Regions from separate parts of the Homo sapiens genome. Here region 2 is linked to region 1. The links come from fine-mapping of genetic effects on gene expression. A gene starts in region 1. The other region holds a variant in brackets. All regions are shown on one strand. Distances are from middle to middle. Region 1 holds the start of PI4K2A (phosphatidylinositol 4-kinase type 2 alpha). Region 2 overlaps PI4K2A (phosphatidylinositol 4-kinase type 2 alpha).

Region 1 (15,951 bases):
GAGTTTAAGGCAGATCCTAAATCCAGCTTCAGAGAGGCAGCTTTGTAAATTGTAACGCGCTAGGCAGGATAGCCTCCAATAACTCTGTGCTAGACATTGTGATATCAAGACACTTTTGCATTCATTATAGGAATTTGTGCTGTCCTTGTCATTATCTAGATCCTTTTTGTTTAAAATATAGTACCTGGCCAGGCGCAGTGGCTCACATCTGTAATCCCAGCACTTCGGGAGGCCGCGGCTTGAGCTCAGGAGTGCGGGAGGCTTGAGCCCAAGAGTTCTAGATCAGCCTGGGCAACGCAGGGAGACTCCGTATCTACAGAAGAAAAAAATTACCCAGCCTAGTGGTGGGTGCCTGTAGTCACAGCTACTCAGGAGGCTGAGGTGGGAGGATCCCTTGAGCCCAGGAGGTTGAGGCTGCAATAAGCCATGATTCTGCCACTGTACCCCAGCCTGGGCGACCTAGCAAGACCCTGTCTCAAATAAATAAATTGCAAACCAAAAAGTATCTGAGACAGGTCTCAATCAATTTAGGAGTTTATTTTGCCAATGTTAAGGACATGCCCGTGACACAGCCTTAGAAGGTCCTAAGAATGTGTGTCCAAAATAGTCGGGACACCACTTGATTTTATACATTTTAGGGAGACGTAAGACATCAATCAATACATGTAAAATATACATTGGCTTGGTCCCGAAAGTGGGGGTGGGGGTGGCAAGTTCCAGGATGTAGGTGGATTCAAAGATGTCCTGATTGACAATTGGTTGAAAGAGTTTAAAGACCTGGAACCCACAGAAGGGAATGTCTGGGTTAAGTTAAGGAATTGTTACTAAGATATGCACGCACACACACACACACACACACACACACACACACACAAGGAATTGTGGAAATCAAGGTTTTTATTATGCAGAGAAGGCTACAGGTAGCAGGCTCCAGAGAGCATAGATTGTAAATGTTTCTTTATTTTTTTTTTTGTTTTGAGACAGGGTCTCCCTCTGTCACCCAGTCTGGAGTGCAGTAGCTGGATCACGGCTTACTGCAGCCTTGACCTCCCAGGCTCAAGTTATCCTCCCACCTCAGCCTCCTAAGTAGCTGAGACTACTGGTTCATTCCACTATGCCTGGCTTATTTTTGTATTTTTTGTAGAGATGGTGTTTTGTCATGTTGCCCAGGCTGGTATTGAACTCCTGGGCTCAAGTGATCCTCCCATCTCTGCCTCCCAAAGTGCTAGGATTACACGTGTGAGCCACCAAGGCTGGCCAGTGTTTATTATCAGATTTAGAAAGGTATCAGACTCTTAGTTAGTTCTCCCCTGGATCAGGAAAAAGACCTGGAAAGGGAAGGGGATTTTCTACAGAATGTAGATTTTCACCATAAAAGACACCTTTGCCTGCTATCATGACAGATGGGGCCTGCTATCTGTCAATGTTGGTATCATTGCTACAAAGAGTCTGCTGTGTCAACCTTAAGATCTCTGCTTTAATGTTAAATGCTGGTCCTGAATTCCAAAAGCAGGAGAAAATAATGAGGCATGTCTGACTCCCACTTCTCATCATGGCCTCAAATAGTTTTTCAGGTTAATTTAGGAATGCCCTTGGCCCAGAAGAGGAGGCCATTCATTTGATTGGGGGGCTTATAATTTTATTTCTGGTTCACTAGATAAATAAATAAATAAATAAAATATAGTGCCAAGATTGGAGCAAATCTTCCCAAATACCACTCACATCAATCTGTGTATCCATATGTTTATTTCTTAAACAATGTGAGTACAGCATGATGCTAGGTTCTGTCAGGCTTGAAAAGCCATGATTGTTACTCTTATGGCCTTTATAATTAGCTGAGTGTGGTGACAAGTGCCTGTGGTGCCAGCACTCGGGAGGTTAAGGCAAGAGAACTGCTTGAGCCTGGTTAACAGAGACCCTGTCTCAAAACATAAATAAATAAATAAATAAATAAATAAATAAATAAATAAATAAATAAAATGTAGTTTCTTGGCCAGGGGAATGACACACTACAAGCAGTATTTTATGAAAATTAATCTGACAGTGACACTCAGAGATGACCAGTGAGAGATTGGAAGCAAAGTAACAAACTCAGAAGTTATTGTAATAATGCAACTAACACATCCTGGAAGTTTCATGTAGCATCAGTGGAGATGAAAGAAAGGGGGTAAATATGAGACATATTTCATAGGGATATTTAATAAGAATCAACATAGTGTTAAGAGCATGGAAACAGTCTGCCTGGATTTGGATCCGGCTCTGCCATTTACCAGCTGAATGACCATGGGCACATTACCTTTACCTCCCTGGGTCTGGGTTTCCAACATCACAGGATACTATAAAGCTGGTTCCATGAGTTAATCCATGTAATGCATTTAAAACAATGTCTAGGCCGGGTGTGGTGGCTCATGCCTGTAATCCCAGCACTTTGGGAGGCCGAGGTGGGCGGATCATGAGGTCAACAGATCGAGACCATCCTGGCCAACATGGTGAAACCCCGTCTCTACTGAAAAATACAAAAATTAGCCGGATGTGGTGGCCCGCGCCTGTAGTCCCAGCTACTCAGGAGGCTGAGGCAGGAGAATCGCTTGAACCCGGGAGGCGGAGGTTGCGGTGAGCTGAGATTGCACAACTGCACTCCAGCCTGAGTGACAGAGCCGGCTAATTTTTGTATTTTTAGTAGAGACAGGGTTTCACCATCTTGACCAGGCTGGTCTCGAACTCCTGACCTCGTGATCCACCCGCTTCGGCCTCCCAAAGTGCTGGGATTACAGGCGTGAGCCACTGTGCCTGGCCAAAAAATTTTTTTAGATAAAATAAAAGACTCTGAGGGGTTTCTGTGGAGAAAAAACTCAGAATTCCAGGGAGAACTCTAAATCTGGGACCTTTCCTTTACCATAATTTGAAGCTTATGGGCTAAATGAGATGAATGATACCAAAAGATTATCTATGTGGCTACAGACCCTGGGCCACAAGAGCCAGGCATCAGTTGATTATTGAGGTCTAGATAGGAAAAGGAAGTGCATGTATTATAACTGAAAGGGGCAATTTAACCTTCTGTACGACTTTTGTTTAGAATGGTTTGTCTGGCCAAAAATGTTTAAGACATTCCCATACATATAATTAAACAATAGTGCTTTCAATTTGGTATTTCTAGTTAGCAGTGGCAATAATTTGATTCAAGAAAGAATGATTATGAAATATTGGTGACTATGTGACTGGCCATGATTCGTGAAAGCCCATACCTCTAGTCTGCTGGTGACTTTAAGCATAAAAACAAAAACAACATCAACAGTAACATCAGCAGTGATTTTTTTTCAAAAAGCTACCATATGTTGAGTGCTCTTTATGTACAAAACACTATGCTAAGTGCTTTATTTTTATTTTTCCTATTAGAGAGTCATGCTTCATATGCTAAGTGCTTTACATAACATTATATTGATTCTTGATTCAGTAATCATGGGGATGATTATTCCCATTTTATAGATTAAGGAACTGAGGCTTAGAGAGGTTATATAACTTGTCTAAAACAACTGATCATCATGGAGACTGGATTCAAACTCAAATGTCTCTGATTTCCAAGCCCATGCTTCCAACCATTACATTTTACACTTTTTTTTTGAAACGGAGTCTGGCCCTGTTGCCTAGGCTGGAGTGCAATGGCACGATCTCAGCTCACTGCAACCTCCACCTCCCAGGTTCAAGCGACTCGCCTGCCCCAGCCTCCGTAGTACCTGGGATTACAGGCGCCTGCCACCATGCCTGGCTAATTTTTTGTAGTAGAGACGAGGTTTCACCATGTTGGACAGGCTGGTCTCAAACTCCTGACCTTGTGATCCACCCGCCTTGGTCTCCCCTAGGATTACAGGTGTGAGCCACCAAGCCTGGATGTACATTCTACACTTTTGAAGGTAGTGTTTGCATACATTTTTTTTTGAGACGGATTCTTGTTCTGTCGCCTAGGCTGGAGTGCAGGGGTACGATCTCAGCTCACTGCAACCTCCACCTCCCAGGTTCAAGCGATTCTCACACCTCAGCCTCCCAAATAGCTGGGATCATAGGCGTGTGCCACCAAGCCCAGCTAATTTTTTTTTTTTTTTTGTATTTTTAGTAGAGACAGGGTTTCGCCATGTTGGCCAGGCTGGTCTTGAACTCCTGACCTCAGGTGATCCACCCGCCTCAGCCTCCCAGAGTGCTAGGATTATAGGCGTGAGCCATCGTACCTGGCTTGTTTGTATAAATTTTAACTGAAACAGTATTCCATGAATTTATTATTATTATTATTTTTTCAGATGGAGTTTCGCTCTTGTTGTTCCAGGCTGGAGTGCAGTGGCACAATCTCTGCTCACTGCAACCTCCTTCTCCCAGGTTCAAGCAATTCTCCTGCCTCAGCCTCCCAAGTAGCTGGGATTACAGGCATGTGCCACCAAGCCCGGCTAATTTTTGTATTTTTAGTAGAGACGGGGTTTCACCATGTTGCCCAGGCTGGTCTCGTTCTGTTCTACTTTCCAGGCCCTTGGTAACCCAGTTTAACTCTGCTTCCCCTCGAATCAAGAAGGTTGCTCTCTGTTCCCTATATGCCCTAGCCTTCCTCTTTTACTCAGGTAACTCCTGCTTGGTGTAACATTTTTTTCCTGTCTCCTTTTTTTCCAGCAATCTAATTACTCTTTCTTTAAGACTCAGCTCATAGCACATGACCCACTTAAAGCCTTTGCTTGATCCTTGAGCATTCTGGTTGAAAAAAAAAATTAGAAAAAAAATAAAGCCTTTGCTGAGCCTGCAGCCTGCCTCAGTTAATTGGTGAACTGTTACGGAGTTTTGAGCTCATTTTGCTTTTTTTTCTCCTACTGCCTCAGAAAGCCACATGCCTTCAGCTTGAGGGCAGGGACTCTATCTTCCTTCCCTTTCTCATGAATAATAATGTACTGAGCACCTACTGTGTCTAGACACTGAGATTTAACAGTGTGAGTAAAAGCAATGGACTCTTACCTCGTGGTAAGAACTTCTTAGGCTCATGGGACCATATTTTTCTTCAATTAACAAATAAGCATTGAGCAGCTGGGCCAGGCACAGTGTAAGATATTAATTGGCTATGTATTATTCTTTGTATCACAAGTTTGTATCTTCACAGGAACTTGAAGATAATGGGTGAGGCAGCGAGTCAGGAATAAAATGTCTTAACAATTGCCCCTGGGTTTTCCTAGGAACTCCTTAAAAAAATTAATTTTTAAAAAATAGATGGAGTCTTGCTATGTTGCCCAGGCTGGCCTTGAATTCCTATAAGGTTGAGAAGGAAAGATAGCTTAGAGCAGTCTGAGCTCTGTGTGATGTATGCACAGTCTATTGGCTCAAAGACATGAGTATGGGACTTCAGTCATGCCTTCCACACCCACACTCTGGGGCAATGGTTTCTTTCTTTCTTTCTTTCCTTTCTTTCCTTCCCTTTCTTTTCTTTATTTCTTCCTGCCCCTCTCCCTCTCCCTTTCTTTCTTTCTCTTTCTCTCTTTTTCTTTCTTTCTTGACAGAGTTTCTCACTGCAACCTCTGCCTCCTGGGTTCAAGCGATTCTCCTGCCTCAGCTTCCCGAGTAGCTGAGATTATAGGCATGTGCCACCATGCCCGGCTAATTTTGTATTTTTAGTAGAGACAGGGTTTCTTCATGTTGGTCAGGCTGGTCTTGAACTCCCGACCTCAGGTGATCCGCCTGCCTCAGCCTCCCAAAGTGCTGGGATTACAGGCGTGAGCCACTGTGCCTGGCGGGTTTTTTTCTTTTAAAAATTTTTTATTTTTTGGCTGCACTGTGGGTGGTTCACACCTGTAATCCCCCAGCACTCTGGGAGACTGAGGGAGGAGGATCGCCTGAGGCCAGGAGTTCAAGACCAGCCCAGGCAACATAGAGATAACCTAACTCTAAAAAAATAATAATAATATTTTAAAAAGAAATCTTCAGGGCTTCCTAGGAAAACCTGGAGGCAATTGTTAAGACATTTTATCCTGACTGGCTACTTCACCCATTACCTTCAAGTTCCTGCGAACTTGAAGTGTAACCTGACATTGTTACATCTACATTGGAAGTATGTTAGGTCAACTGAGATACGAATTTGGGATACAAAGTACAATGTATAGCCAATCTATAACTTGTTATTTTAATGTAAATTCTTGGTAAACAAGTTAGGAACTGCCTCTTTTCCTTTAAAAACCTACTTCCAGGCCAAGCGCAGTGGCTCACACCTGTAATCCCAGCACTTTGGGAGGTCGAGGTGGGCAGATCACTTGACCTCTGTCGTTTTTTTTTTGGAGACTGATCACTCTGTCTCAAAAAAAAAAAAAAAACAAACCCAAAAAACAAACCCCCCGCCCCAAAAAAAACGTTTCATCGAGGTAGAGCAGCAGCTTTGTTTCTTTGCTTCACTGCTGTCTCCCTAGCACTTAGAACATAGTACGTGCTCAATAAATGAATGAGTGCCTGACTGAATGAATGAGGATACATAGATGAGATTCCTCCAATCTCACAGCCGGTTCAGAGTAGGCACTCAATGAGTGACTGACAGGATAGTTGCTGTTTTGAAAGCGCCCAAGTCCAGTAAGCCAATTGGAAGCTAAGCGTGGCGCTGGTATAGTAGGGGCAGGGGGCGTGCCTGACCCAAGGTTGGGTCCTGGAGCATGCGCAGTCTTCACAGAAGGTGACGGGGAGAAAAATGCGGAGGCAGCGATTGCGTAGGAGCAGGTTCTGATTGGCTACTGTTCGCGCGCGAGGGGCCGTGCCTATTCGTAGCCAAGTAAACAGGGCAGGTTAGAGGCGGGGCCAAGGAGGCGTCGCGACCTGGTTGGCCGGCCGGGGCCTGGGGGATGTCACGGATTGGTCGCGGCCGCGAGCGCAGTGGTGTGGAGCGCGCCGGGTCCCGGAGCCGGCTGTCTGAGGGATGGACGAGACGAGCCCACTAGTGTCCCCCGAGCGGGCCCAACCCCCGGACTACACCTTCCCGTCGGGCTCGGGCGCTCACTTTCCGCAGGTGCCCGGGGGCGCGGTCCGAGTGGCGGCGGCGGCCGGCTCGGGCCCCTCTCCGCCGGGCTCGCCGGGCCACGACCGCGAGCGGCAGCCACTGTTGGATCGGGCCCGGGGCGCGGCGGCCCAGGGCCAGACCCAAACCGTGGCGGCGCAGGCCCAGGCTCTGGCCGCTCAGGCCGCGGCGGCAGCCCACGCCGCTCAGGCCCACCGCGAGCGGAACGAGTTCCCGGAGGATCCTGAGTTCGAGGCGGTGGTGCGGCAGGCCGAGCTGGCCATCGAGCGCTGCATCTTTCCCGAGCGCATCTACCAGGGCTCCAGCGGAAGCTACTTCGTCAAGGACCCTCAGGGGGTGAGTGCGGGGGTGGGGACCGCCGCCGCGGGCTGAGGGCCGGCGGCGCTCCTGGGGAGTTGGGGGCTTCGCACAGCCAGAGGGAAAAGGGAGAAACTTCACAGTACCAGCCCCTGGCAGGATTTAGGGATGCCACTGAGGACTGGAGCTGGGGACGCTCTGCGGAATGGAGAAATAAATCAGAACCTACTTGGTGGGGGAGGAGTGAGCGGAAAATGAAAAGAGGAAATTGACCAGATACGGGCCGGGGGCTCAGCGGTGTGGTGGGGCAATCCGCCGCTGGACAGAGACTGCTTTCTAGTAGGGTACTTAGCTTCACACTACTGGGACAGCTATTCGGCCGCCGACTTGCAGATTTGGGGCTTTAGGCCTGTTCTCTCTTTTTGGACCGACCGAACCAGTGTGTCGCTGTTCACGGAGGAGGATGGGTGACCTATCAGGGGATCTGAGAATTCAGTTCCAGCCTTCTATGTTGTGGGGGATGTCCCCTGCCACCGTCCCAGCTCTTATTAACAGACGTTGAAGAAAGAATGGGCGGACTCACCAGTTTCATCTGCCCTGGGTATTGCTCACTTCTGGGAAAGGGTTCAAATACTTTTTGACGACTCCAAAGTTTAGATAGAACTTGGAGTTTTAGAAACATGGGGCCATCAGCTACTTTTTCTTTCATTTCTCTCCCAGGGCTATCAACAGCCTGCTTTTCAACTAAGGCAGAGCGTTTGCCGACCTTTATTTTGTCCCCTGCCTGTATATAAAGGGGGATGGTTATAGGATGGGGCATGGAGTGACCAGGGTATCTGAGAAGTGACCTTTATCCTTTTGAGAACTGCAGAATTTAAGAAATACCAAGTCTTCCCTGTTTTCAGGGAAGTTTCAGGGAAATTTTCAGGTGTGCTGCAATGGGTCATTGGAAAGATGTATTGTTATTTAAATTATGGGTGTCAAAGTTTCCTCAGATTTTCCCTGACATCTCTCCTGTGTGAACTCTTTAGATGGCCAGGGTGCTGTTTTAATAGGAGTCCTGAGTGGCCAGGACGGGCTGTTACTTGTAGCTCTTGGTTCGGCTCATTGAATGATCTAGTTATTCACTCAGAGTTTGAGTCGTCCCTGAATTAATCAAGAATTAGAGAACAATTCTGCCATGAACTCAGTTTCTCAGTTTACATAAACTGAGTTGGGGAAAGCTTTGCGAGTAATAAGTCTTTCGAAGTTTCTTTTTCTTTTTTTTTTTCTTTTTTTTTTGAGACAGAGTCTTGCTCTGTCGCCAGGCTGGAGTGCAGTGGCGCGATCTCAGCTCACTGCAGCCTCCGCCTCCCAGGTTCAAGCAATTATCCTGCCTCAGCCTCCTGAGTGGCTGGGACTACAGGCGTGCACCACCACACCCAGCTAATTTTTGTATTTTTAGTAGAGACCATGTTGGCCAGGATGGTCTCGATCTCTTGACCTTGTGATCTGCCCACCTCGGCCTCCCAAAGCGCTGGGATTACAGGCGTGCCACCGCGCCCGGCCTCCAAGTTTCTTAAATAAAAGAGCTTGCAAGCTCAAGTGGGAACCATCATTTCTAGAAGCAAAGAAATGTGAGTGCCCTGAGGTTTAAATGTCAGCCAGAGGCTTGCTTGCTTTCTCTTTCTTCCTTCCTTCCTTCCTTCCTTCCTTCCTTCCTTCCTTCCTTCCTTTCTTTCTTTCTTTTTCTTTCTTTCTTTCTTTCTTCCTTCCTTCCTTCCTTCCTTCCTTCCTTCCTTCCTTCCTTTCTTTCCTTTCTTTCTTTCTCTTTCTTTCTTTTTCTTTCTTTCTTTCATTCATTCTCTCTTTCTCGTCTTTCTTTCTTTCAGAGAAGGTCTCACTCTGACACCCAGGCTGGAGTGCAGTGGTGCAGTCTCACTGCTCACTGCAGCCTTGACATCCAGGGCTCAAGGTCCTCCCACTCAGCTTCCGAGTAGCTGGGACTACAGGCACGCACCACCACACCCGGCTAAAAATTATTTTTCATGGAGACAAGAGTCTCGCCATGTTGCCCTGGTTGGTCTCAGACTCCTGGCTTCAAGCAGTCATCCTCTTGCCTCAGCCTCCCAAAGTGCTGGGATTACAGGTGTGACCCACCATGCCTGTCCTTTTTTTGTGGGCAGAGGGTATTTTTAGTTTGTTGGCAAATGTAAGAAGGGGCTAAGATTATCTTTGATAGGTACAGGAGAAGGAGGAATATTTTTGTTTTTCTTTCATGACACTGTTAGAGCTGCATTGGAAGTGGGTTAGGTCAGCTGAGAAGTGAGCTGGTGCTTTGACAGATGGAAGTAATACGATCTCTTAATTCTACCTGGCAGGTAAAGTACTACCATCTCAGTACATAGGCCACAGAGAAGGACAGACCATAGGTATGTTACTTGGTGATTTAGGGATTCCAGTCTCTAAAATTTCCTGGCCACTATCCTTTCTCATAGGGGAAGTCCAAACACAGATGCCCTGACAAAACTTTTTGACGTACTCATACTGCTTCCAGTGAAGAAAATGTGATTTAGAACAAAGGGCACTTTCTAAATGCTTGCGGTGGGTTAGACTGGCCCACAGACTTACTGTAGTTGGAATTGTCATCTTTGGCTCTCCTCCAAATGTATTTACTTTATTAAACAAATACTTACATAGCATTTACTATATTCCTTTAAGTGCTTTACAAATAATAACTCACTTAATCTTTATAACCACCCTTGGAGGTAGGTACTGTTATTATCCCCGCAGGTGACAACACAAGCCCATGGTATAACAAATTTTTCCAAGGTCTCACACCTAGTAAGTGGTAGAGGCAGGATTGGGCCAAGGCGGGTTGGCTGTGGAGTTCATGTTCTCACCACTATCCTTTGCTCCCTCAGAGTCAGTCATCAGAATTTCCATATTCTGGACAGGTGCGGTGGCTCACGCCTGTACTCTCAGCACTTTGGGAGGCCGAGGCAGGCGCATCACTGGAGGTCAGGAGTTCGAGACCAGCCTGGTCAACATGGTGAAACCCCATCTCTACTAAAAATACAAAAATTAGCCGAGCACTGTGGCAGGCACTTGTAATCCCAGCTACTCGGGAGGCTGAAGCAGGAGAATTGCTTGAGCCTGGGAGGTGGAGGTTGCAGTGAGCCGAGATCGTACCACTGCACTCCAGCCTGGGCGACAGAGTGAGACTCCGTCTCAAAAACAAAACAAAAGAAAAGAATTTCTAAATTCTCTTCTCAGCTACTATATTGGTTAGTATTGAATTTGACTATATGTGACAGATATTTTAAAATAATGATGACTTGAAAAAAGGTTCATTTACACCTCATGTAAAAGAAGTCTATAGGCTAGCTGCTCAGGCATGCTCAGGGCTGGCATGACATTTCACTTTATTGGAGACATAGGGTTCTTCCTGCCAGCTGATCAGCCATCTTTAGGATATGGCTTCTACTACATGGTCCAAGATGGCCGCTCAAGCTGCAAACATCTTGTCTGCTTTTCAGCCATTTGGAAGAAGGAAAGGGAGAGGGTGAATATGCCCCCATCCTTTAAGGCACTTCGTAGAAGTTGTAGGAGACTCTTCTACTTACATTCCATTGTCTAAAACTTAGCTGTAGTAGTGGCTGGGAACTATAGTCTTTTTTCTTTTTTCGCCCAGGTAAAAATCATGGGTCTTGTGTCTAGGGAACAAGGGGGAACAGAGATTGGGAGAACCAGCACTTTCTGCGACAGCCACTTTTGGATCTTAGACAGTCTGAAAGATTCTTGAAGATAACAGCCCTGGTCCCATTTCTCAATTTTGGATGGTTTCTGTCTCAGTGGGGTCCAAGAACAGATGGAAAATGCTAGAAGTCATGGGGAGAGTATACACATACCCCCCTCACTTACCTCCTTGTGCTTCAGGTCTCATGCTCACTCAACTGCAAAAGGGTTTTTTGAGCTTTTTCTCTTTTGCGTGGAGTAATACTAGATTTTCACATTGCCAAGAATCATAGGACAGCATGTGACTCACTAGGTTAAGAGGATTAAATGACATATCACACATGAAAGCCCTGACGTAGTTCCTGGCACTTAGTTGGGGCAGCTCAATCAGATTTTTAAAAACATTCCTACTAACTGCTTAATTAGGGTTCTTGGGGTACATGGTATCGAATAAGGCTATAAGAGTTGGTAGATGGGGCGCAGTGGTTCACGCCTGTAATCCCAGCACTTTGGGAGGCTGAAGCGGGCGGATCACAAGGTCAGGAGATAGAGACCATCCTGGTTAACATGGTGAAACCCCATCTCTACTAGAAATACAAAAAATTAGCCGGGCGTGGTGGCGGGCACCTGTAGTCCCAGCTACTCGGGAGGCTGAGGTAGGAGAATGGCGTGAACCCGGGAGGCGGAGCTTGCAGTGAGCCAAGATCGTGCCACTGCTCTCCAGCCTGGGCGAGACAGCAAGACTCTATCTCAAAAAAAAAAAAAAAAAAAAGTTGGTAGATGATGCTTAAAATCTCGAGACCTACATGTATGACAAACTTGACTGCCTCTTAACGTTTTAGTAAAATAATTTTATTATATTTTATTATATATATATTTTTGAGACAGTTTCTCACCCTGTCGCCCAGGCTGGAGTGCAGTGGCACAACCTTGGCTCATTGCAGCCTTGGCCTCCCAGTGTTGGGATTACAGGTGTGAGCCACTGTGCCTGGATGGTTTTATATATTTCAACAAGCCCTTCCCTTCCTTTTGTAAGAATGAACTTGTAAATAAGGCTTCTCTACCTAAATAGCTAAATCAAGGACTACTATTTTCCTCCAACCTATACCATAGAATACAGCAGTTCTTAGAGTGTGGCCCAGGGATCTTGACCTCTGGGAGTTCCTTTTTGGGGTCCACAGGTCAAAATTATTTTCATCATAATTCTAAGACTTTATTTGCCTTTTTCATTCTCATTTACTTAGGAGTGGAGAGTGGAGATTTCCAGAGACTACATGATGTGTGATATTGAAACAGATTGAATACTAAGATATGAGATATAGCCTTTACCCACATTAACAAATGCTTTTTGGAGTCCTTAATAATTTTTTTTTTTTTTTTTGAGATGGAGCCTCACTCTGTCGCTCAGGCTAGATCAGGCATGATCTCGACTCACTGCAACCTCTGCCTCCTGGGTTCAAGCAATTCTCCTGCTTCAGCCTCCCAAGTAGCTGGGATTACAGGTGCGCCCACCACCATGCCCGGCTAATTTTCGTATTTTTAGTAGAGACAGGATTTCAGCATGTTGGCCAGGGTGGTCTCAAACTCCTGATCTCAGGTGATCCACCCGCTTTGGCCTCCCAAAGTACTGGGATTACAGGCATGAGCCACCACACCCAGCCTAATTTTTAAGAGTTTAAACTTTTTGAGACCAAAACGTTTGAGAACTATCCACTTAATGTTTATGAAACTTTAAAAGAAGACTTTTATAAAAGGTAATTTCTGTATATTTCACTGTGCGATGTGAATGATATGCTTGAACTGTCTTACATTTTAGGTTCTTGGAGAAAGGACCTCTTTTAGCATAGCATGACACCCTCCTCCTTGTCATTGCTGATTAGATATAGGAACCCCGCTGGGTTCCAGGTTCCAGTAATTTTTTGTTGTTGTTTGTTTTGAGAGGGGGGTCTAGCTCTGTTGCCCAGGCTGGAGTGCAGTGGTGTGATCTTGGCTCACTGCAACTTCCACCTCCTGGGTTCAAGCGATTCTCCCGCCTCAGCCTCCTGAGTAGCTGGTACTACAGGTGCATGCCACCATGCCCGGCTAATTTTTTCTATTTTTTTTTTTTGTAGAGATGGGGTTTCACCATGTTGGCCAGGCTGGTCTTGAACTCCTGACCTCAAATGATCCACCTGCCTTGGCCTCCCAAGTGCTGGGATTATAAGTGTGAGCCACTGCGCTGGGCTCAGGTTCCAGTAATTGGTTGTGGGTTCTGACACCAGCTGGTGCATGGCCTCTTGCTTTCTTGTGTGATTTGGTTTTTATTCCCAACTTCATGGACTGCTACTGCTTAAGCTATCTGTACCTCACCCCTCCTTTGTTAAAAGGGGAGATTAGTAAATGGGTGTTAAGAAAAGTTGTTTTTATAATATTGGCATCAAACTGAAGCTCTCTCCTAGATATAATAAAGGAATTGAAAATCTATTAAGAGAAAAAAAACACAAAATATTAAAGAAGAGAGTGGATGGTGAGGAAAAATTAGGCAGTAGTCATTTTCTTTTCCAGCTAAATACTGGTGGGTGTCTTTCCAATTTGAGTGGTTTTAGAGTTTGTTCTCCATGAATGAGAAGAGTATTCTTGATTATTCAGTAGCATAGTTGATTTTATGAAGTGAACATTGGAAATTAGGCCAGAGGGTATTTTACCTCTCTGTCTAGGAAAGCCACCAAATGCCTGCAGAATGCTTGCACATCGTTCTCCACAGGCTAGGTCCTGAGCAAATGCTAACATAATTGAATTGAACTGAGGCTTACACTTAGTCCTGAAAGGCACTTGTCTCCCCTTCTGTCTGAATGCCCTTTTGTTCCTCCATTCTTCATACTCTAACATTCCCTCATTGATCTAGTCCAGGCAGTATTCTTTAATAAAACCCCTGTACTATTGCATAACCATAATTACTCATGCTTTTGGAGTCATTGAAATGCTTCTTATTCTCCTTATGGTAGAAGGAAATCAAGATGTTTGAGAGGTCAGTCTTTAAATGACACTTGACTGCAATCTTGGCCTTCAAGTTCTGCTTGCTTTTTTTTTGTTGTTGTTGTTTAATTTTTCTTTTTTAGAGATGGGGTCTTGCTCTGTCACCCAGGCTACAGTGCAGTGGCATGCTTCTAGCTCACTGCAGCCTTGATCTCCTAGGCACAAGGGATTCTCCCCGCCGAGTAGCTGGGACTACAGGTGCATACCACCACACTTAGCTAATTTTTTTTTTTTTTTTTTTTGAGATGCTATTTCGCTCATTGCCCAGGCTGGAGTGCAATGGCATGATCTCGGCTCACTGCGACCTCCACCTCCCAGGTTCAAGCGATTCTCCTGCCTCGCCTCCCGAGTAGCTGGGACTACAGGCATGTGCCACCATGCCTGGCTAATTTTGTATTTTTAGTAGAGATGGGGTTTCTCCATGTTGGTCAGGCTGGTCTCGAACTCCTGACCTCAGGTGATCCACCCTCCTTGGCCTCCCAAAGTGCTGGGATTACAGGCATGATTCCCGGCTAATTTTTAAAAATTAGTGACAGAGTCTTGTGGTATTGCCCAAACTGGTCTCAAACTCCAGGCCTCAGGCAATCCTGCCTCATCCTCTGAAAGTGCTGGGCTTATAGGCATGAGCCACCATGCCCAACTTTTTCTGTCTTTAAGTAGAAGTATTTACCAGTTGACCTCAGCCCTGGTATTTTTCAGCCCCCAGTAGTAGTAGGAGTGTCTTGGCCTCCTTTTCATTGAGGACCAGCTTACTGAACTCCATAATGTGCCTCAGTTGAACTGACTGTTGCGTTCTGGGACATGCTTCAAGTTGCCTTTTGGTTTCCCTGTCCAGGGTCCGGAGGGTTACAGTGGACTCGTCAGTCATTCTCTGAGTTGTGAGCCTGTTGCTACTGCTGCTTTGTTATTCAGAGGCTGGGGTTCCAGGGGAGCAGAGACAGAGAAGACTGCTGAGGACTCTAGCTAGCTGCTTTGCATAAGAAAGTAATTCTGAAGACTTATGATGTGAATATATGCATTTTGCATTTGCCAGTAAATAAGTTAGTTTGTCTTTAAGAATAAATTGATTCTTTTTGGAGGGAGAAGGAGGAGTTCTGTATTTTTCTTGTCCTCTCAAATCCTTGGAAGGCATTTTTAAAGGAGCTGGCTTCAAGATCGACCAGTTATTGTTAGCGACATGGACCTAGCTAGTTCCTAATATGAGTACTGAGTTGGTAAAAGCAGATGGGTGTATGTTGTCTGCTGTGACCTGCCATTCAGGAAGTGACACCCACAGAAAAATATCTTATGACCCAGACTAGCTTGAGTAGGCTGTGGGGTGAGGGGACAAGGAGAGTCATATGATATGAGGATGAATCACTTGGATAGCATATTTGCTTTTTTCCTTTGAATTACCAGTTTGGGGACTGGAGGGAATTAGATGAATGTAAAACAACCTCAGAGGGCTGACTGGCCTGTTGAAGAAAACACTCAGGAGGGAGGGCCATAGTTTCTAGGCATCCCATATTTCCAAAGACCTTAGAAGATTAAGTTACTGTCTGCTATAGAAGATGGATTTAATCTGTGTGGCATCTCATGTCCTGGTTTCTTGCCTATCAGAATTACTTAAGAGAGCTTCATTCTAACCAAGTAGCAGAGTCTTTTTCCTGCTGTGATTTTTCTCTTTGGATAATAAGGCTGCGAGAGGAAATCTCTTCATCATTGATGAAGGAATTTCCTTAACCTCATTCCATAATAGATTTTTTTTTTTTTTTTTTTTTTTTTTTTTTTGAGGCAGAGGCTTGGTCTTGTCACCCAGGCTGGAGTGCAGTGGCGTGATCTCAGCTCACTGCAACCTCCGCCTCCTGAGTTCAAGTGATTCTCCTGCCTCAGCCTCCCGGGTAGCTGGGATTACAGGTGCA
Region 2 (15,951 bases), 20 kb after region 1:
AGGACTCTATCCAGTTGATCAGAGCATCTGTCATTATAGAAACAAGGTTCACATTGCATTGGAACTTCAAATGGTAAGGCTCTAATTCTCACTCACTGGCTGTCTCTGCTCTCTGCTCCTATGAGGTTTCAGGTTATGATAGTTTCATTAGTCATGGGGAAAAAGTGGTTTGTTAGGAAGAATGATAGAAAATAAATATGATGGGGGCAAAAGGGGATTTATGGCTTGAGAGAGCCAGGAGTTTCACTGTGGACACTGGCAAGGTAGCCTTAGGAAAGCTCTTTTTCCTTCATTCCTATGCCTGAGTTTTCTGATTTGTAAGGCAGGGAGTGCCTACTACAGTACCATGCACATCCATTTTAGGTAGTCTATTAATACTAGATGGTAGCATGGAGCGATAGATGAGAGGCAGTTATTTTGCCTCTCAGGTTCATGGGAAAAAAAATAGTTATTTGTAATAAATTTTACAAGGCTTAGGAAAATACCTTTCTTATAAGTTTGATTTTAGGTATTTATATGCTAAAACTCACTTGTTGCTGTCTCTGAAAGAAGCTTGTAACTCATTCTTCATTCACTTAATAAATATTTAATGAGCATATGCCAGCTACTGTGTTAGGTGCTGTGGATGCTAATATAAATAAGATGTTCTCCGCTTCCTCAAATCTCATTCATTTTAAAGGAGGAGTTAGATATACAAATGGATAATTACAAGACAATGTGATAAGTGTGACAATAGATGCATATGTGGATTACAATTACGTCACTGCAATTTGACTTAAGTATAATATTGATGGCTCATAAAAATTTTTTTTAGAATAAGTAATGCATGCATCTAGTATAAAAATCAGAAGGCACATAGGGTAAACAGAGAAAAGTAATTCAGACTCCCTGCTACCCCTATCTCCTGGCCATTCAGTTTCCTTCCTCAGAGGCAGCCAGGATTACAGTGTATAGCCTATACATAAAAATAGCAGTTAATTAAAATGAAAACCAATTTTAATGTTTGTGTTTTGAATACGAATAATTTCACAAAGTAAAAAAATTCAAAAGGGCCCGGGCACAGTGGCTCATGCCTGTAATCCCAGCACTTTGGGAGGCCGAGGTAGGAGGATCACCTGAGGTCAGGAGATCAAGACCAGCCTGGCCAACATGGTGAAACCCTCTCTCTACTAAAAATACAAAAATTAGCCAGGAGTGGTGGCACACACCTGTAATCCCAGCTACTTGGGAGGCTGAGGCATGAGAATTGCTTGAATGCGGGACTTGGAGGTTGCAGTGAGCCGAGACTGTGCCACTGCACTCCAGCCTGGGCAACAGAGTGAGACTCTGTCTCAAAAAAAAAAAAAAAAAAAAATTTTTTTTCAAAAGGAAATGAAGGGGTACAGAGTAAATTGCAACTTGTTTGTCTCTGGAAAGAAGATGGGCATTTGGCCTAATCTAACCCAGGAGATGACAGTGTTAATCCTTGTACTTCATACTAGCTGCTGTAACAACCCTTAAATCTAAGTGGTTTAATACAATTGGATTGTATTTCTTTTTTATCATATTTTTTTTGGGACAGAGTCTCCCTCTGTCACCCAGGATAGAATGTGCAGTGGTGCGATCTTGGCTCACTGCAACCTCTGCCTCCAAGGTTCAAGCCATCCTCCCACCTCAGCCTCCGAAGTATCTAGGATTACAGACGTGCACCACCATGCCTGGCTAATTTTTGTATTTTTAGTAGAGACGGGGTTTAACCATGTTGGCCAGGCTGGTCTCGAACTCCTGACCTCAAGTGATCTGCCCACCTCGGCCTCTCAGAGTGCTGGGTTTACAGGTGTGAGCCACCACGCCTGGCCAGGAGTGTATTTCTTGATTACATCTCAGACTCATGCCAGATAGGCAGCTCTCCTAGATACCACATCACTCATGTAGTTACAAGGTATCCGAGGTTCTTCCATGGTGTGGCTCTGCTATTTCCCAGCCCTTCTTTCCTAGCTGCACAGACTGGAGAATGTGAATTAAGGATTGTGGGAGATTTTAGTTGCCAGCAGTGGAAGTGTTGTACATACATAATTTTGTCATTATTTCATTGGCCCAAACTAGTTATCTTCCCTCTCCTAGTTGCTGGGAAGGCTGAGAAATGTATTCTTTCTGTGCCCTGGAAGAGGAATAGGATTTGTGAACATCAAGCTATTTATTCTCTGCCATAGTCTTCTGGTTCCTTAAACTTGACTCTAACCTTAGTATCTCTTCTCTTTCACTGTAGGTAGTATACCTGGCCAGTGAGACCTTCAACTATAGTGCCATTGACCGAGTGAAGTCCAGGGGCAAGCGGCTTGCACTAGAGAAAGTGCCAAAAGTTGGACAGCGGTTTAACCGCATCGGGCTACCACCAAAGGTATAGACGCACCTCTGGCTTATCAAGGGTCATGATTTATAGTGACATAGTCATCCAAGTGGTGAAGCAAGGTGCCTACAACTCAAATATGGGCACGTGAATAACCTGCCCTGAGGATCCTGTCTTCCTTATTTCTGTCAAGTGGCTAAGGTTTGAAAAGTTGAGACCTAACTTTTCACTTTACTCCTCTGGTTCATTTGGATAGGTTCTTTAATTTGGATGGATGATCACTGTTACATCTCTTTTCTCCTGTACTTGCAAGAAATGAGGAAGTAAAGATCTTGAAAAGTTTTCCTTCTCTGATACAAACTCCATAGGGCCTTAATGGGTATCTGGCATATACTCCAAAGGTCTTTGGATTTGGGCAGTAGGGAAAAACCTTTGTTCCTTCCTCTTGGTTCCAGGTTGGTTCATTCCAGCTCTTTGTTGAAGGCTACAAAGATGCAGACTATTGGCTGCGGCGTTTTGAAGCAGAACCTCTTCCTGAGAACACTAACCGGCAACTACTGCTCCAGTTTGAGCGGTTGGTGGTGCTGGATTACATCATCCGCAACACTGGTGAGCAGCTGCAGGTGGTCCCATGCCCTGTGCCAGACTGTGTTGAGGCATGGGGAGGCCTGGAGGCTTGCAGGGCTTGGGAGTCAGAGTACCTTGTCCAGACACATCATGTGTAGTTTTCAGAAGTGGTGAGGCCTGGAGTTAGTATTTGCATTTTATCTTACACTCTTTCCTGGTTCCAGACAGAAGACACTTAACTCTTCCAAAGCACTGTGAAGAGTACTCTTATCCTTGATCCCTAGTCATTCTTGTAGCCTCAAGACCTGTAACAGGACAGTTTTGTCTTCCTCTGACTTCTTGAGGTAGATGTTTAGATCATTGATATTTAAAAAAAATTTTTTTTCAGTGCAATTTAAATTCAACTAACCTGGTAAAATGTACATGTATTGAGGACAAAAGTCTTTAAATTCAGGCTGGATGTGGTGGCTCATGCGTGTACTCCCAGCACTTTGGGAGGCCAAGGTGGACAGATCATTTGAGGCCGGGAGTTCCAGACCAGCCTGGACAACATGGTGAAACCCTGTCTCTACTAAAAATACAAAAATTAGCCGGGTGTGGTGGCGGGCACCTGTAGTCCCAGCTATTCAGGAGGCTGAGGTGGGAGAATCGCTTGAACCTGGGAGGCGGAGGTTGCAGTGAGTCAGAATTGCACCACTGCACTCTAACCTGGGTGACAGAGCAAGACTCTGTTTCCAAAAAAAAAAAAAAGTCTCTAAAGTCACCTTATTGGAGCTATATTTTGTCCGATATTTTAATCATAGTAAAATGCATGTAACATAAAATTTATTATCTTAACCATTTTAAAGTAGTATGAAATACATTCATATTGTTGTGCAACTGTCACCACCATCCATCTCCAGAGCTCTTTTTGTTGTTGTTGAGACCGAGTCTTGCTCTGTCACCTAGGCTGGAGTGCAATGGTGCGATCTCAGCTCACTGCAACCCCTGCCTCCTGGGTTCAAGTGATTTTCTCACCTCAGCCTTCTGAGTAGCTGGGATTACAGACACCCGCCATCATGCATGGCTAATTTTTGTGTTTTTATAGAGATGGGGTTTCACCATGTTGGCCAGGCTGGTCTTGAACTGACCTCAGGTGATCCACCCATCTCAGTGTCCCAAAGTGCTGGGATTACAGGTGTGAGCCACCATGCCTGGCCTCCAGAACTCTTTTCATCTTGTAAAACTGAAGCTCTATACTCATTAAACAGTAACTCTTCATTCCCCCTCCCTACGTCCCTGGCAACAATCATTCTGTTTTCTGTTTCTATGATTTTGACTACTCTAAGTACCTCATGTAAGTGGAATAGTACAGTATTTGTCTTTTGGTGATTCGCTTATTCACTTAGCATAACGTTCTCAAGGTACATCTATGATGTAGTATATATCAGAATTTCCTTCCTTTTTAAGGATAAATACTGATCCATTTTATGTATATACCACATTTTGTCTATCCATTTATCTTTCAGTGAACACTTGGGTTGCTTCTGCATTTTAGCTATTACGAACAATGCTACTATGAACATGGGTGTACAAATATCTCTTCAAGACCCTGCTTTCAGTTTTTTTGAGTATATATCCAGAAGTGGAATTATTGGATCATATATGGTAATTCTATTTTTAATTTTTTGAGGAACCACCATACTGTTTTCCACAGCAGCTGTGCCATTTTACATTCCCACCAACAGCACACGAGGGTTCCTTCCAATTTCTCACCAGCACTTACTGTTTTCTGTTTTTTCCTTTTCATATTTAATCTGCATTCTGCTGAATGTTTTCTGTTGTTTTGATAGTAACCATCCTAATGGGTGTAAGATGTTATCTTATAGTTTTGATTTGCATTTCCTTAATGATTAGTGATGGTAAGCATCTTCTTATGTGCTGATTGGCCAATCATATATCTTCTTTGGAGCTGTCTATTTAAGTCCTTTGCCTATTTTTGAATTTTTTTTGGTCATTATTGTTGAGTTCTCTATACATTTGTTTAAAGTTCTCTGTATATCTGGCTATTAATCCCGTATCAGATATATAATTTGCAAATATTTTCTCTCAATCTCTTGCCTTTAGTTTTATTTTTTAAAGAGACAGAGTTATGCTCTATTGTCCAGGCTGAAGTGCAGTAGCACAATCATAGCTCACTACAGCCTCGGACTCCTGGGCTCAAGTGATCTTCCTACCTCTGCCACCCGAGTAGCTGGGACTACAGGTGTGAGGACCACGCCTGGCTAGTTTTTAAATTCTTTGTAGAGATGAGGTCTCACTGCGTTGCCCAGACTGGTCTCGAATTCCTGGGCTCAAGCAGTCCTCCTACCTCAGCCTCTCAAAGTGCTGGGATTACAGGTGTGAACAACTGCGCCTGGCTTGCAACTGATTTTTTTGTGGATTGACTTTGTATGCTGCTACTTTCCTGAATTATTAGTTCTAGTAGTTATTTTTTTGTGTGGAAATTTTAGGGTTATGCACCTACACAATCATATCTATGAACAGACATAATTTTCCCTCTTTTTTTTTTTCCAATTTGGGTGCTTTTTATTTCTTTTTTCTTGCTTCAGTGCTCTAAGACTTCCAGTACTATGTTGAATAGAAGTAAAAGCAGGCATCTTTTCACTGTTCTTGATTTTAGAGGAAAACCTTGCAATCTTTCACCATTATGATGTTAGGGTCCTTTTTGCCCACCTTGGCACCCTCAAGCTATTTGCAAGCTGCTCCTGGAACTTGTGCACATCTGGCTGCCATGTGGCTGAAGGGTGGGGGATGGGTAGCTGCTTGTGGGGCTAAGAGCCAAAATTGAATGAAATTAACCACAATTTACTGTCCAGGCTTTCCCCTGCAAGTTGCAGGCCCTCCATAGACTCCAGAGCTCCAAAATAATTACATCAGACAGATTTTTGCCACTACAATTGTTGTCCACGTGGGGAGACAGATTTCTGTTGTTTCCTACTCCACCATCTTCCCAGAATCCTCTCTCTTAGAGTATTGATTTTTACCTTTTCTCCTTTCCCTTCCTTTTCTTTTCTTTTTCTTTCTTTTCTTTTTTTTTTTTTTTTTGAGACGGAGTCTCGCTCTGTCACCCAGGCTGGAGTGCAGTGGCGCGATCTCGGCTCACTGCAACCTCCGCCTCCCGGGTTCACGCCATTCTCCTGCCTCAGCCTCCCGAGTAGCTGGGACTACAGGCGCCTGCTACCACGCCCGGCTAATTTTTTGTATTTTTAGTAGAGATGGGGTTTCACCGTGTTAGCCAGGATGGTCTCGATCTCCTGACCTCGTGATCTGCCCGCCTTGGCCTCCCAAAGTGCTGGGATTACAGGCGTGAGCCACCGCGCCCGGCCTTTTTTTTTTTTTGAGACGGAGTCTCACTCTGTCGCCCAGGCTGGATTGCAGTGGCATGATCTTGGCTCACTGCAACCTCCACTTCCCAGGTTCAAGTGATTCTCCTGCCTCAGCCTCCCGAGTAGCTGGGACTACAGGTGCATGCCACCACACCCGGCTAATTTTTGTATTTTTAGTAGAGACAGGGTTTCACCATATTGGTCAGGCTGGTCTTGAACTCCTGACCTCGTGATCTGCCTGCCTTGGCCTCCCAAAGTGCTGGGATTACAGGTGTGAGCCATCGAGCCCGGGCTCTTCTTTTCTAATATATGCACTTCAGACTTTAATTTCATCTTAAGCATAGTTTAGTTGTATCTTACAAGTGTTTTTTTTTTTTACCATAATCATTATAAAATATACTGAAATTTTTTTTATCCTCTCAGTTTATAGATGGAGACTGTATTTTCTAATTTCCATTGTTCATTTCTTCTCTGACCCATAGTTTACTTAAAATAGTTTTTTAGCTGGTTAGTAGGAAAATTTCAAAATACACAAAAGTAGAGAGACTGGTATAATAAACCCCATGTACTTGTTACCACCTTCAACAGTTATTATGTAAGGTCTCACTTCCTGCTACCCCCATCCCTGCTGGATTTTTTTTTTTTTCAACTAAGGCTTTGACTGGAACTGCTGGATTTTTTAAAATTTATTTTTATTTTATATTTTTTGGAGACGGAGTCTCACTCTGTTGCCCAGGCTGGAGTGCAGTGGCCCAATCTCGGTTCACTGCAAGCTCCGCCTCCCGGGTTCACACCATTCTCCTGCCTCAGCCTCCCGAGTAGCTGGGACTACAGGCGCCCGCCACCACACCCGGCTAATTTTTTGTATTTTTAGTAGAGACGGGGTTTCACCGTGTTAGCCAGGATGGTCTCGATCTCCTGACCTCGTGATCCGCCCACCTCGGCCTCCCAAAGTGCTGGGATTACAGGAGTGAGCCACCGCGCCCGGCCACTGCTGGATTATTTTAAAGCAAATCTGAGACATCATTTTATAGCATCCATAGATACCTCCATATGTTCTTGAAGAGATAAAGACTTTTTTTTTTTTTTCAGTATAATCAGTATTTAATGTCCCATCAGTGTTTGGATTACCCCAGTTGTTTCATAAAAAAAGATTTTTATAATTGGCTTGTTGAAATTATGATATAAAGGTCCACATATTACATTTGGTTAATATCTTTCCTTTCTGTTTTTTTTTTGGAGATGGGATCTCACTATGTTGCCCAGGCTGGTCTTAAACTCCTGGGCTCAAGCAGTCCTCCCACCTCAGCCTCCCAAAATGCTGAGATTACAGGCATGAGCCACTGTGACTGGCCAGGTTAATATGTTTCTTAAATGTCTTCAATTTAGGGAAAGTTTCACATCTTTTTTTTTCCCTTGCCTTTTATTTGTTGAAGAAACTGGATATTTGCCCTATAGAAGTTCCACATTGTGGATTTGGCATCCCCAATTCTCTGTGTTTCCTGTAAATTTACTGCTTGAGTTTAAAGGCTTGATCAAATTCAGGTTTGATTTTTTTTTTTTTTTTTTTGAGGCAGGGTCTCACTCTGTTGCCCATGCTAGAGTACAGTGGTATGATCATAGCTCATTGCAGCAGCCTCCAACACTTGGCTCAAGCTGTCCTGCCTCAGCCTCCCAAGTAGTTGGGACTATAGGCACGTACCACCACACCTGGCTAATCTTATTTACAATTTGTTTAGACATGGGGTCTCGCTATTTTGCCCAGGCTGGTCTTGAACTCCTGGCCTCAAGTGATTCTCTGCCTCCTCAGCCTCCCAAAATGCTGGGATTTCAGGTACAGCCTCTGCTGATATTCTTAATCTTGACTTTTATCTTTTTAAACATATTAAGGATTTTGTTGTGAACATTTTAAAGTCTGTATATTTTTATTGTTTGGAGCCCCTACAGATCTGTTTTAATTTTCAGTTGTTTCTCTTTTATTCCTGTCATCTTGTTTCTTTGTGTACCTGGTTGTTTTTCATTGTCAAATACTGCCTATCAGAAATCGTAGAGCTGTATAAAGGCCTAAGATGTCATTGTAAATCCTGTCTGGAGGAAGATTTCTTTTGGCAAGCATCTAGGGCAATAGCAATCCAGTATCACTTTAATTTCAGGTGTTGAGGGGAGCTTAGTGTATTTCCAAGGTGTAGTGCTTCAGGTCGTAACCCAAAGCATAGATGATATACGAGGGTCCCTTACCCCTGATCAGTCACTGGATTATAGTTTTTGTCTCTCTAGCTCCACAAGGCTCTTATAATTGTTCTACCTCTCAAGCTCTTAGCCAGCTCTTTCCAAATTGGCAGGTGCTCTAGGGGAAAAGAAGCCACAGTGCTGGGCTCCACGTCCTCCCATGGATTTCCTTTCTCTCCCATATCTTCACTCTTAAATCCTTTGTGGTCTTATTAAAATCTCCAGTACCTTAAAAAAGATCTAAAAATATTTTATCCAGCATTTGTAGTCATTCTCAGTAGAAGCGTTAGTCCGAGTGTCCAGAATACCTAGTCCACCATTACAAAAATGGAAAATCATCCCCCCTTTTTCTGCTAACTTT[A/G]TATTTCTGTTCACAGATCGAGGCAATGACAACTGGCTGATTAAATATGACTGTCCAATGGATAGTTCTAGCTCTCGGGTAAGAGACTGAGATAAATCTTAAAGAGAATGAAGAGTATTTGCATAATATAGAAACACATAAAATGGTCAGAGATGTAGTTCATACAAGTTCAGAAGAATCGGGGGGCGCATATGTTTAAAATTAATAGGTTAATATTTGGTAAAGTTTTTCTCAATATGTGTTTCAAGGACATCCTACTGACACATGTTAATAGGAATAGCATGAAGAAAGGGTCAAGTAAATTTGGAACATATTATGTACTCTGTTCTTTGAGCTTCTTATTGCACAGTAGCATAGTAAAGGTCTGAGAAGTACTACGTTAAACAAACCTATTTAAATTTGATTTCTACCCCTTTTAAACCATGAACCACTTTTCTCACAACAGACCGCAAGTCCACAGAACATAAGTTTAGAAAAAGCTGCTCCTGCAACTTTCTTTCCTTTCTCATTCCTTTCATCCTCCACCATACTTCTCTATCACTGTTCAGTCTACATGTTTTACAAAATTAGCAGAAGGCTGCCTAGGGGAGAGTGAGATTGGTTTTATTTCTTTTTTCTTTTCTTTCTTTTTTTTTTTTTTAAGAAACAGGGTTGGCCGGGCATGGTGACTCACGCCTGTAATCCCAGCACTTTGGGAGGCCGAGGTGGGAGGATCACCTGAGGTCAGGAGTTCCAGCCTGGCCGACATGGTGAAACCCCGTCTCTATTAAAATGCAAAAATTAGCCGGGCATGATGGCGGGAGCTTGTATTCCTAGCTACTCGGGAGGCTGAGACTCGAGAATGGCTTGAACCTGGGAGGCTGAGGTTGCAGTGAGCCAAGATCACACCATTGCATTCCAGCCCAGACGACAGAGCAAGACTCTGTCTCAAAAATTAAAAAAAAAAAAAAAAAAAAGAGACAGGGTCTTGCTCTGTTGCGCAGGCTGGAGTACAGTGGTGCTATCCTAGCTCACAGCAGCCTTGGACTCCTGGGCTCAAAGCAGTCCTCTCACCTCAGCCTCCTGAGTAGCTGGGACTACAGGCGCAAAAGTTGTTTAATGTTTTGTAGAGATGAGGTCTTGCTATGTTGCCCAGGGTGGGGTTTTCATTCCTTATAACTTTTTTACTTTCTCTAATAGTGGCTCTCAAATTTTGTGCCTGAATCTTCTGAAGAGTTATTTAAAATAGTACACAGATTCTTCAGGCCTTTCCCTTAGAAACTGATTCATCAGGTCTGGAGTAAAACTCAGGATTCTGCACATTTAATAAGGTATCTCAGGGGATTCAGATTCAGGCATCCTGGAACCACAGTTCTTGTTCCTGTGATGGCACCCATGAACCTGAAGCATGGAGCCACATAGTCAGTGATTGTCTCTGACATGGGCTGTCACAGGTGACATGCCCACTCTTTTTACATTCATCTCTTGTCCTTTTCCTTTTCATGCACCACTGAAGCAGGAGAACAGACTCCCTTGTGCAAGAGCAGCCAGCTGTTATCTTCCGAGGCTCTGTTTTCTCACTGGAAAATGTAGTTGTCACCAGTGAAGTAACATCTGAGTCAAGGTCCACACAAAAGGACCTTGGCCAACTGATATGGATTTTATTTCTTCTGTTCTGCTTTCAGGATTCTCATTTTCTTTCCCTAGGAGGAATGGCTTATAGTTATCTTTATTATTGTCATTTCCTTCTTACCAAGGACTGTAGCAACTCTTGGGGAAGTGTACCTTTTCTAAGATAAGAACAGGACTCTTGAACTTTGAACAAGAGCCAGGTCAGAGGCACCAAAATGTGCTAAGTTCAGATAACAACATGGAAGCCAGTTCAGAGAGTAGCTCAAGATAAGTTCAATAAGAATTCTTCTCTTGAGGGAGTTGGGATGAGTTGCTTTGCTACTAATTGGAAGGGCCTGAGGGAGATGGGTTTCCTCAGTCATTAGTCTTTCCTTGCTCTTCAGGACACAGACTGGGTGGTGGTGAAGGAGCCTGTTATCAAGGTGGCTGCCATAGACAATGGGCTGGCCTTCCCACTGAAGCATCCTGACTCCTGGAGGGCATGTAAGTCTCCAGACAATGGTGGTCTGGCTCTTCCCTTGCTCAGTATATTTTCTCACTGTGCAGTGGAGATGATAATGTCTCTATCATAGGATTATTCTAAAAATTAATGAAATAATGGAGTTCAGGCACTTTAACACAATGGCTGGCATATGGCAACTATTTCATAATGTAAGCTGTTTTTCTAATTTTTGTCTTCTATGATTCCCATTACAAGCATAAAGGTGATTAGAAATTAGAAGCATAAAGATGAGTTTTCTCATTGTCTCTTTGCATTCTTCTCGTTCTTTCTGAGGACTTTTTTTTTTTGGAAATGGAGTTTCGCTCTTGTTGCCCAGGCTAGAGTGCAATGGTGCGATCTGGGCCCACTGCAACCTCCACCTCCTGGGTTCAAGCGATTCTCCTGCCTCAACCTCCCAAGTAGCTGGGATTACAGGCATGCGCCACCACGCCCGGCTAATTTTGTATTTTTAGTAGAGACGGGGTTTCACCATGTTGGCCAGGCTGTTCTTGAACTCCTGACTTCAGGTGATCTGCCTGCCTCAGCCTCCCAAAATGCTGGGATTACAGGTGTGAGCCACTGCGCCTGGCTGAGGGCTATTTATTTTTTATTTATTTATTTTTTTTTTGAGACGGAGTCTTGCCCTGTCGCCCAGGCTGGAGTGCAGTGGCGCGATCTCGGCTCACTGCAACCTCCTCCTCCTGGGTTCACACCATTCTCCTGCCTCAGCCTCCCGAGTAGCTGGGACTACAGGCACCCGCCACCATGCCCAGCTAATTTTTGTATTTTTAGTAGAGACAGGGTTTCAGTGTGTTAGCCAAGATGATCTCAATCTCCTGACCTTGTGATCCACCCGCCTTGGCCTCCCAAAGTGCTGGGATTACAGGCATGAGCCACTGCGCCCGGCCCTTTTTTAATTTTTTAATTTGTTATTTTATTGTTTTAGTGTATATTTCCTGAAATATCTTTTTTTTTCCTGTTATCTGAGGACTGTCTTTCCATAATTTATTCTAATTGTGCCTCTAAATATAAGCTTCCTATCAGTGTTCTGTCTTCCTTGTTCCATCTCCTACCCTGTTGTAACTGAGAAGCTTCTGGAAAGGAGGAGAAATAAATGTAGGGAGTCAGTAGCCCCTTTTGCAGCATTAGTCTTCCTTTTCAGAAGGACCATCTCAGCGTCTCAGTGGCAAGTAGTTGCTTCTAGACCTTGCATCTTGGAAGGTCATGTAATGTCTGAGAATGAGCTCTGACATTAGGCAGCCCTGGGTTTGAACCCTGGTTCCTCTACTGACTAGCTGTGTAACCTTTACAGTTAAGAGCACTTGTAAGTTTTTGTTTCTGTTGTATGTCAGGGAAGAGGGGTTCTCCTTTAGAAAGTGCCTTGACTGGTGGAGGACACAGATGAGCAGGGACTTTTCCAACACCAGCTTTGCCTTTGACTTTTCCTCTTTTCAGATCCTTTTTACTGGGCCTGGTTGCCCCAGGCGAAAGTCCCATTTTCTCAGGAGATCAAAGATCTGATCCTTCCAAAGATATCGGACCCTAACTTCGTCAAGGACTTGGAAGAGGACCTATATGAACTCTTCAAGGTTAGCCCTGGGAACCTCAGCCCTATTATCATATGGGAGAAGGAATTTTTAATGGTTTTTTTAATTGGTCCTGACAAAAGCCAAGAGGAAATGGCTAACACCTTTCTGACTTGAGTTAGCCAACGAATAGCAAGATTTCCACATGTGGACAGCAGGACCTGGTTTGGATGGGTTTGAGAGAAATGGGCAGGGGTGAGAAATCACACTGATGTGTCTCTCCTGTCCATCATGTGGCTGCAATGTATCTGCAGGGCTTTCATTTTAATATGGAGCACTGGAGCCTAGAGTTTGAGATGCAGAGGAAGATATTGACTTGTTTTCTGTTTCCTCATCTGTAAAGCAGGGAGTTCTTGTGGGAGTAGTTGACTTCACAAAGCTGCAGAAGCCTTATGCAGGTTTTCCTTCTTAGAAAGTTTCTAACTGGGGGAGAAAATGGGTTCCTGTGAGGCATTCACACAGGTTCCATCTCCTTCTGGTCTTCTTTTGCAGAAAGATCCTGGTTTCGACAGGGGCCAGTTCCATAAGCAGATTGCTGTCATGCGGGGCCAGGTAAGCCTGGGACATCCTCCCAGTATCTTTGGCGTCTCTGGGAGTGTTGTGTGCTCAGGTTGAGCAAATGTTTGAAGTTTGTGTTTTATACCCCCCCCTTTTTTTTTGAGACCGAGTCTCACTCTGTCACCCAGGCTAAAGTGCAGTGGCATGATCTCTGCTCACTGCAACCTCCACCTCCCAGGTTCAAGCAATTCTTGTGCCTCAGCCTCCCAAGTAGCTAGGATTACAGGCGCATGTCACAACGCCCGGCTAATTTTTGCATTTTTAGTAGAGACAGGGTTTTACCATGTTGACCAGGCTGGTCTCGAACTCCTGACCTCAAGTGATGCACCTGCCTCTGCCTCCCAGAGTGCTGGGATTACAGGCGTGAGGCCCTGCGCCCGGCCGTGTTTTACAGCTTTTTTAAGTCCGTTGTGTACATTATTTTTGGCTGTACCTTAACACCTAGGAGAGGAAAAGTGGCCCTCCCAATTCTCCCACCTCTTCCCTGGTATCCAGTGCTTGTTGAAGCACTTAATGTGCACTCATCTCTATGCTAGTTGCTAGGTAATTCATTGGTAATTAAACTAATGCTCTCTGTCCTAGAGTTGCTCAAGGCAGGCTGTATGTTTTGGTGGTTAAGATCTGGGCCCTGGAGCCAGACTGCTTCACTACTTGGAAGCTCTGTGGCCTGGGGCAAAAGCCTCTGTTTTCTTGTTCATAAAACAGGATAGTAATAATACGTTGCACAGTTGGCTGGAGAATTTCATGAGATAATGCTTATCAAGCGTTTAGTAAAAAGAGTACTGGGCACATGAAGCACTCACATATTGATTATGGTTATAATTTTGTTGTTATAGGTGCAACTTACATTATTCCTTCTCCTTCCACTTCACCTTCAAAGGGAGCTAAGGAAACCAAGGGGATTGTTGATCTTCCAAAGCATAGTAAAGAAATGCTTGAAAAATGGTTTGAAAACTCTGTAGGGTACTGGTATTATGCCTATCACTTTGAAGTCTTCTTAAAGAGAGTTGGGATGACCTAGTGGTTAAGGGTGCAAACTGTGGTCACAGTGCCTGGGTTTTTGAAGCCTGGCTCTGCCATTTACTACCTGTGAGATTTTGGGCAAGTTACTTAATCTCTCCTTCCCTTAGTTTCCTCATGTTTAATGTGGGATCAATAATAGTAGCTGAGACCAGGCATGGTGGCTCACACTTGTAATCCCAGCACTTTGAGAGGCTTAGGTGGGCAGATCACTTGAGCTAAGGAGTTGGAGACCAGCCTGGGCAACATGGTGAAACCCCATCTCTACAAAAAACACAAAAATTAGCCATGTGTGGTGGCGCACGCCTGTAATCCCAGCTACTCAGGAGGCTGAGGTGGAAGGATTGCTTGGGCCTGGGAGGTCTAGGATGCAGTGAGCTGAGATGGCACCACTGCACTCCAGTCTAGGGGACAGAGTGAGAACCTGTCTCAAGATAATAATAATGGTACCCACCTTACAGAATTATTATGAGATAAATGATTTGAAACAGTTAGAGTAGTACCTGGTATACTAAAATACTCAATTTGTAGTATTAATAGCTGTTAGGATTATGATTTTTGTATACAGAAAATTCAGCTTCTCCCATCTTTAAAGGGCAAGAGGATCTTCTCAGCCTTAATTCTGCATTTACTTCTTCCTGCCATTTATCTAAAGACCTCTGATGACAGCACCTCCTGGGTTTGCTGAGCCCATTTTTCCCTGGAAGGGGGTTGGACAGAGGTTTTTTTTTTCTTTTGAGACAGAGTCTCACTCTGTCACCCAGGCTGGAGTGCAGTGGTGCGATCTTGGCTCACTGCAACCTTCACCTCCCAGGTTCAAGTGATTCTCCTGCCTCAGCCTCCCAAGTAGCTGGGATTACAGGTGCATGGCACCACACCTGGCTAATTTTTGTATTTTTAGTAGAGATGGGGTTTCACCATGTTGGCCAGGGTGGTCTCAAACTCCTGATCTCAGGTGATCTGCCTGCCTCGGCCTCCCAAAGTGCTGGGATTACAGGAGTGAGCCACTGAGCCCGGCCTGGACAGAGGTTTTAAGAACTACAATTATTGTAGCTGTCTGAATACCAGTAACATGGTATTCCTACATTTCCCAAGTAATGTAAGGGCCCAATTAGGCTGGCAGAATTTTTGGAAGCATTAAAAGCCATGTGATAGACTCAGATGTTATGGAACTCAGCATAAAGGAGTAAACTGGCTTCTCCAGTTGATATAGGCTGTGCCTCTGTCCGTATTGCAATGTCTTATCTAATTCCATCCCAGCTCAGTCCCTTGCCAACCCTTCTCCCATTACTCAGATAGTGCCATTATTCAGGATGGTAGGGAGGTTGGGGTAGTGCAGTTTTATTTATCTCCATCTTGTGCTCCTAATGTCTTCAGAGGAGCTTTTGGTATCTTGTAACCTAAAGTGCCTACTACCTTAGGGTGACCATCCAGCTCCTTCCAACATGTACATGGCCAGTATATCACTCATGTGCTTACTTGTCTACCATTCACACATCAAAGCAAAATGTGTGCACTACAAAATTTCTGCACTACAGAAATCTGACAAAGCACAGAGAAAAGAGGTCATAACCCTGTCTACATAGCTGAGCCATTATTGCAGGATGGGCTGTAGTACAAGGGCCCTGAGATGTAGGGAAAGAGTGAAGAGGCCCCACAGGGACACAGTCAGGTGATAGAAGTTGTTACTCAACTTAAAGGCTTCTCACCGGGAGTTAAAGAATCTAGGGTCTGAGAGAAAGCCTCTGTAACATTTTCTTTTTCTTTTCTTTTTTTTAAAGACAGGGTCATGCTCTGTCACCTAGGCTGGAGTGCAGTGGCCCAATTGTAGACCACTGCAG

The links.
Region 2: its variant is fine-mapped to the expression of PI4K2A in lung (TOPMed, PIP above 0.99).

The regions. Positions count from the first base shown.
Region 1 is chr10:97,633,821-97,649,771 of GRCh38, forward strand. It overlaps PI4K2A (phosphatidylinositol 4-kinase type 2 alpha), which reads left to right and starts at 6,851. Exons shown (of 9, transcript NM_018425.4): 1 at 6,851-7,357. The coding sequence starts at 6,923. It also overlaps a transcript of MORN4 not described here. RefSeq lists enhancers at 1-33, 15,050-15,099, 15,150-15,209 and silencers at 5,593-5,776, 6,941-7,170.
Region 2 is chr10:97,654,037-97,669,987 of GRCh38, forward strand. PI4K2A (phosphatidylinositol 4-kinase type 2 alpha) reads left to right here. Exons shown (of 9, transcript NM_018425.4): 3 at 2,249-2,380; 4 at 2,785-2,938; 5 at 8,871-8,932; 6 at 10,849-10,948; 7 at 12,402-12,535; 8 at 13,025-13,084. Among named protein-coding and RNA genes, the nearest start is that of PI4K2A, 21 kb to the left of the region's middle. The variant A/G (reference allele first, on the strand shown) is at 8,855.